Linked DNA regions of Homo sapiens. The protein of the gene in region 1 purifies or fractionates together with the protein of each later gene. This does not show direct contact. Each region holds a gene or a part of one and is shown in the gene's direction. Other genes may lie near its edges.

What was found. Proteins that work in one complex are often made in the same cells at the same time.
Region 2: the proteins of FUCA2 (region 1) and CLN3 purify together in Homo sapiens (affinity purification with mass spectrometry; one large-scale study listed by BioGRID and IntAct). This does not show direct contact.

The regions. Positions count from the first base shown.
Region 1 is NC_000006.12:143,505,091-143,508,743, reverse strand, and holds part of FUCA2 (plasma alpha-L-fucosidase precursor), read left to right. Parts: intron 1-1,319; coding exon 1,320-1,507; exon of another isoform or gene 1,508-2,774; intron 2,775-3,286; exon of another isoform or gene 3,287-3,328; intron 3,329-3,653. UniProt on the Homo sapiens protein: Alpha-L-fucosidase is responsible for hydrolyzing the alpha-1,6-linked fucose joined to the reducing-end N-acetylglucosamine of the carbohydrate moieties of glycoproteins.
Region 2 is NC_000016.10:28,482,075-28,485,727, reverse strand, and holds part of CLN3 (battenin), read left to right. Parts: intron 1-1,609; coding exon 1,610-1,722; intron 1,723-3,055; coding exon 3,056-3,102; intron 3,103-3,182; coding exon 3,183-3,251; intron 3,252-3,345; coding exon 3,346-3,401; intron 3,402-3,529; coding exon 3,530-3,623; intron 3,624-3,653.

The DNA.
Region 1 (3,653 bases):
CCTCAGCCTGGGGACTTGTCCCTTCATGGTCACAGGATGGCAGCCAGGCACCATAACTTCACACAACCCTGCCCAAAGGCAGGAAGGCCAGTGTCTCTTTTCATTAGGAGGGAAACCATTTCCACAGTCCCCAAAGTTGGCTTTCCCTCAAGTTCCCTTGGCCAGCATGGATCTCACATCCCTGTCGCAGCTGTAGTGGAAGCTGGGAAATTACGTAAATACGACTTTTGGGCAGGCAAACAGCATGCCTGCCGCATAGTATGCCCTTCAATTATTTCTTCTTAGCAGAGTCTCCTGATCGTCTTGGGAAATATAGTGCTGATTATGGATTTGCTTATCCTGTAGAAATACTCATATGAAAGGAATGGTGATAGAAAAAGCAGGAGGTGGGTCAAAAATGGGGGTTGCATCTATTTCATGAGGATAGTTACTGCTGTGTTTATCTAAAATGTGTAGATGTGCTTTTCCTCATGAAGTCTTGCTTACGCAGTTTAGGGTCAATATACCATTGCTTAGAATGAATGCGTATAGCAAGTAATTGTTGAAGGTTGAGTCCATTTATTAAAATAACAGCATCTTTTTAATTTTACTTTTGCCTCCCTTTCTGTCCTGTGCCTCCAAAGTGTTCTCTACTACTGAATATAATAGATGCATATTATGTTTTAGGCATGTAGTCTTCCTTTTAGAAGCCCTAATCACTTATGTTACAAGGGACAATGTGTAAAGACATATACTACATGTTGTGATTTAAAAGTGAAGAATTAAAAGAGAATGGGGCTGGACACGGTGACTCATGCCTGTAATCCTAACACTTCGGGAGACTGAAGCAGGAAGATCGCTTGAGCCCAGGAGTTTAAGACCAGCCTGGGCAACATATGGAAACCACATCTCTACAAAGAAAAAAAAAATAGCCAGGTGTGGTGGCACGTGCCTGTGGTCCTAGCTACTCAGGAGGCTAAGGCGAGAGGATTGCTTGAGCACAGGAGGTCAAGGTTGCAGTGAACCATGATTCCATTACTGCATTCCAACCTGAGTGACAGAGTGAGACCCTGTCTTAAAAAAAAGAGAGAATGGGTAGCTGAGTTGCCTAGAATGCTCTAGTTTATGAGCTGAGTGGATATCACAGGGGGATAGGTGGAAAATGAGAGGGGGTTTAGTTTGCATAAGCTATCTTTAAAGCCAAGTCAAACTAATGGGGAAGTGAGAAAGAGAATCTGGGTCCTATCTGTGTGAGGGGTAAATGGTAAGGGGAGCTGGAGCAGTTCTTTTAAATATGTGTGTATGTGCTGTTTATGCACTCTTTCCTTTCCTCCCCTTAGGTGGTATTGGCAAAAGGAAAAGATACCGAAGTATGTGGAATTTATGAAAGATAATTACCCTCCTAGTTTCAAATATGAAGATTTTGGACCACTATTTACAGCAAAATTTTTTAATGCCAACCAGTGGGCAGATATTTTTCAGGCCTCTGGTGCCAAATACATTGTCTTAACTTCCAAACATCATGAAGGTAAGTCAATCCAGCCTATGGAAATTGCTGACAATGGTTAAGAAATGAAAAGTTGTTCTTTTGGAAGAAAAAACTAAAGCAAGGTCTAATTTTCTCTTCGGAGCAACCATAAGTGGTGACTGGCACTTGCTTATGACTTAGGGACTGCACATTCAACCCAAATTGAGAGATGTTAGGAATACAGAAAGGATCATACCCGCCACGTAACAGAGGAAAGATGGTCACGTTTTGTCACATGTATTTTGAACAATATTTCCAAGATTTACTTAAAGCTGTTTGTTGAAGGGAGTGTGGGTTGCAAGTCAAAGTTCATCTTGGAATTGCACTCTTTCCTTCCCCTTCTCTGTAATGCATCCTGTGAATGCATCATGGGGATTATACTGCTATAGTCTTGCATCATTACGACACACCTGGCTGCACTTTTAGCCAACTCTTAGCTGGCCAAATGGTGCAAATAGTGGATGAACTGATAGTGATGAAAGTGATGAAAGTGACCCAGATCACCTGGAGGGAAAAGGATTGTGGAACTGTAATGGTTTCCAGAAAAATCAGAGGTGGTAGAAGAATATCTAAACCCCCACACATTTAAAATCCATTCTATTTTAATAGAATGGATTCCACCCATTACCACTCCAGTATTTGTAAGGCCAGGGAAGCATTAACAAATTGTTTTTGTTCCAACGGCTTGTTCATTCATTAGTTTCTTTTGCATGATCATCTTTGCCTTGGTATAAAAAAATTTGCACTGGATGTGGTCGCTCATGTCTGTAATCCCAAAATTTTGGGAGGCCGAGGAAGGAGGATCATTTGAGCCCAGGGGTTCAAGACCAGCCTGGGCAACATAGTGAGACCCTGTCTCTACAAAAACAAACAAACAAACAAAAACTAAAAAATTAGCGTAGTGGTATGTCTCTGTAGTCCCAGCTACTTGGGAGGCTTAGGTTGGAGGACTGCTTGAGGCTGCAGTGAGCGGAGATAGGCTTACTACACTCCAGTCTAGGTGGCGGAGGGAGATCCTGTCTCAAAAAAAAAAAAAAAAAAAAACGGGAAACTTTGCCTTATTGTTTTCTCCAGGGATGGGATGGGAATAGGAGAGGAGAACCAACACAAAAAATCTGGAATGATCATAGGATATTTTTCCCTTTGGCCACATTCTGGTAGCTTCATGATTTTCTCCTGTAGATATTTATCCTGCTGAGATGAATGTCTATCAAGTGTATTTGCTTGAGAACATGCTGATTTCCTGATGTCTAGGAACTTTCCCAAGCTGTATGGCACAAAACATTACATAGTGAGTTTATTTAATAAAAATTGTTAATCAAACTGTGAGGAGAGATGATGTAGCCCACATGTATACATTTTCTGGGACCCATGTTGTCAGATGTTTTCATTGCTCATGGAAAATGCATACTAAGCTCAGGAAGGAACGTCGCAGTGTAAGCTTATGGTGGTGATATTCAAATGAAGACTCAAGTGGTTTTAGTACTGTCTGACATTAGGGCCTGTCAAGTTGAGTAACTTTGAGTATGACTTTAGATATCAACACTGCTCTGAAGCTTACCACAGAAATGATAGGAACAAGAGTGAGCTGTTTTAAAAAGCTTATTAAAATGAATCTAAGGCTAGGTGCAGTGGCTCACATCTATAATTCCAACACTTTGGGAGGCCAAGGAAGGAGGATTGCTTGAGGCCAGGAGTTTGAGACTGGCCTAGGCAGCAAAGTGAGACCCTGTCTCTGAAAAAATAGACAAAATTAGCTGGGCGTGGTGGAGTACACACCTGTAGTCCTAGCTACTTGGTAGGCTGAGGTGGGAGCATCACTTGAGCCCAGGAGGTCGAGGATGCAGTGAGCGAAGTTCGCACCACTGAACTCCAGCCTGGGTGACAGAGCCAGAACCTGTCTCAAAAAAAAAAAAAAAAAAAAAAAAATCGAAAGTATGAGTCATTCTTAGACTTGTTCTAATTTACCAAGAGTAAAATGTTTCACCAAATGTACCTTATAAATGTCTATTCTCAAAGATTCTTTTAGATTTTAGTGGAATAGTAACAATGTATTTAAGTCTCTAGGCACTGATGAAATTTTTGAGGCTTTCATATTTATTATGTTTTAAGTATTTCAGTTTATATATCTCTTCTAACATTTTTA
Region 2 (3,653 bases), on another chromosome or scaffold:
GGACTTTATTTGATTAGTTCCTTTTTTTTTTTTTTTTTTTTTTAATCAGTGTTGACCAGGTTGGCCTCGAATGTGTAGCCTTGCCTGCCTGAGTGCCAGGGCAACAGGCCTGAACCATGGCGACTCCCTTTTTTTTTTTTTTTTTTTTTTTTTTTTGAGACGGAGTCTCATGGTGTCACTCAGGCTGGAGTGCAGTGACTGGTGTGATCTCAGCTCACTGCAGCCTCGGCCTCCCGGGCTCTAGTGATTCTCCTGCCTCAGCCTCCCGAGTAGCTGGGACTACAGGCCCATGCCACCATGCCTGGCTAATTTTTTATATTTTTAGTAGAGACGGGGTTTCACTGTATTGGCCAGGCTGGTCTCAAACTCCTGACCTCAAGTGATCCACCTGCCTTGGCCTCCCATAATGCTAGGAATACAGGCGTGAGCCACCGCGCCCGGCCTGATTAGTTCTGTGTATTTTCATGCATATTACAAAACACTTTGGCCGGGCATGGTGGCTCACATCTGTAATCCCAGCACTTTGGGAGGCCGAGGCGGGCGCACCACGAGGTCAGGAGTTTGAGACCAGCCTGGCCAATATGGTGAAACCCCGTCTCTACTAAAAATACAAAAATTAGCCAGGCTTGGTGGCGCTTGCCTGTAGTCCCAGCTACTTGGGAGGCTGAGGAGAAGAATCGCTTGAACCCAGGAGGCAGAGGTTGCAGTGAGCCGTGATTGTGCCACTGCACTCCAGGCTGGGCAACAGAGCGAGACTCCGTCTAAAAAAAAAAAAAACACACACTTTGAACTAGCCAGACACACCTGGCCCTTCACAAGATTAGTGCTTAGGACAAGTCTAAGTAGAAAAAGTGAGTCCATTTAAAGAAAAATATTAAGTAAAAATATATATATACAGGAGGAATATGGATATGGCAAATAACATGAAGCCAGAACCTAAGTGACTAAAATCGAGGAAGTTCTGGCCTAGCACAGAGTGAACGTATAATTAATGGGAGCTAGAGCGACCATTAGAATAATAATGGCCAGAAAACAGAACTGACTCGCTAGGTATGAGCCAGCAGTCCGAACAAGGGCCTGCTGAGCACAGTGGCTCACAGCTGTAATCCCAGTGCTTTAGGAGGCTGAGGCTGGAGGACCACTAGAGGCTAGAAATTTGAGACCAGCCTGGGCAACATAGCGAGACTCCATTTATACAAAAAATGGAAAATATGAGGCGGGCTTGGTGGCACGTGCCTGTAGTCCCCGCTACTTGGGAGGCTGAGGCGGGAGGATTGCTTGAGCCTGGGAGGTCGCGGCTGCAGTGAGCTATGATTGCACCACTGCATTCCAGCCTGGATGCTGGAGAAAGACCCTGTCTCTGAAAAAAATCAAAACAAAATGAAGGCCCATGAATAGGAATAAGGAGATAAATTCAGGTCCAAAGAAAGAAGCCTTTGTCCACAATTGGAGCTCTCCCGCACAGCGTAGGAGCCTTAGAGGCAGTGAGCTACCCATCTTTGAAAGTGTTCAAAGGTAGAGGTGTTCCCTGGGAAAAGTGGCCTAGATGGTCCCTGGGGACCTTCCCAGCCAGTAGGGTTTTCTGACCCTGCCTTCATCCTACTCCTAGCTATTTCTTGTTGCTCACATCTCCTGAGGCCCAGGACCCTGGAGGGGAAGAAGAAGCAGAGAGCGCAGCCCGGCAGCCCCTCATAAGAACCGAGGCCCCGGAGTCGAAGCCAGGTAGGAGACACAGACCCTCAGAGAGGTCACTTTCTTTCTCTCTGGGTTTGGCCTTTTCCTCTCTGCAATAGGCAAAGTTAAGAGGGGAAAGAGAGTGAGTGTACTGGTTATGGGAAAAGCCTTTGTCTATTTGAGAAATACTTGTTGAGGACGAGCACAGTGGCTCACGCCTGTAATATCCCAGCACTTTGGGAGGCTGAGGCAGGAGGACCACTTGAGCTCAGAAGTCTGAGTCCAGCCTGGGCAACAGAGCAAGACCTTGTCGCAAAAAAAAAAAAAAAAAAAAAAAAAAGAAAAGAAAGGAAGGAAGGGAGGGAGAGAAGAAGGGATATTAATTGAGTACTTACCATGTGCCAGGCATTCCAATCACAAGTGCTGAGGCCCTGCGGTGGGGATAAGCTGGGATGTTCTAGAACCAGAGAATGGCCAGTGAGACTGGGCAGGGTGGGCCAATGGCCATCTGTGGAGCTGTACAAGAGACATTGGCCGGGCGTGGTGGTTCATACCTGTAATCCCAGCACTTTGGGAGGCTGAGGCAGATGGATCATTTGAGATCAAGAGTTTGAGACCAGTCTGGCCAACATGGTAAAACCCCGTCTCTACTAAAAATAAAAAAATTAGCCAGGTGTGGTGGTGCATGCCTGTAGTCCCAGCTACTTGGGAAGCTGAGGCACGAGAATCACTTGAACCCAGGAGGCAGAGGCTGCAGTGAGCTGAGATTGCACCACTGCACTGCAGCCTGGGCAACTGAGTGAGACTCTGTCTCAAAAAATAAAAAAAATTAAAAATCAAAGAGACGTGAAGAGGTCTCACCTGGTTAGCTTTTATTTTCATCATGATAAAGTATGTATATTACTTGAAGTTTACCATTTTATTATTTTTTATCTTACTTTATTTTTTTGAGGTGGAGTTTCGCTCTTGTTGCCCAGGCTGGAGTGCAATGGCGCAATCTCAGCTCACTACAACCTCTGCCTCCTGGGTTCAAGTGATTCTCCTGCCTCAGCCACCCGAGTAGCTGGGACTACAGACACCTGCCACCACACATGGCTAATTTTTGTATTTTTAGTAGAGATGGGGTTTCTCCATGTTGGCCAGGGTGGTCTTGAACTCCTGACCTCAGGTGATCCGCCCACCTCAGTCTCCCAAGGTGCTGGGATTACAAGCATGAGCCACTGCGCCCAGCCATTTTAACCATTTTTAAGTGTCCAATCCAGTGGCATGGAAGTGAGTTCCCACTGTTGCGTGGTCTGGTTAATTCTGTCATACCGGTGCCTCTTTGCCGAGTCTTCAGTGTGAAAACTTCATCTGCCCTTCTCTCTCTGTTCCCCTGCAGGCTCCAGCTCCAGCCTCTCCCTTCGGGAAAGGTGGACAGTGTTCAAGGTTCGGATGATGGCTGGGGTATGTCCCTGTGGGGCTTGCTCACCTCCAGGCCCCCCGCTTATATCTTCTGCCTTTTCCAGGGTCTGCTGTGGTACATTGTTCCCTTGGTCGTAGTTTACTTTGCCGAGTATTTCATTAACCAGGGACTTGTAAGTGAGGGGTGCTAGGAGGGGTGTGGAGGTGGCGATTGGGGCTGGGACCCACACAGCCCCGTCCATCTCCCCTGTCTGGTATTTGTTGCAGTTTGAACTCCTCTTTTTCTGGAACACTTCCCTGAGTCACGCTCAGCAATACCGCTGGTAAGAGGAGCGAGGGCAGTGGGCTGGGAGGGCGCCGTGGTGATGCAGCTGCCCTGCCCAGTAGGCACCGGGGGGAGCGGGATGGTCCCTGGAGGAGCCTCCTCTCCTCCCCCCAACCCTAACCTCAGGTACCAGATGCTGTACCAGGCTGGCGTCTTTGCCTCCCGCTCTTCTCTCCGCTGCTGTCGCATCCGTTTCACCTGGGCCCTGGCCCTGCTGCAGGTACCAAACCCCTGCCCCTCACTTCACTCC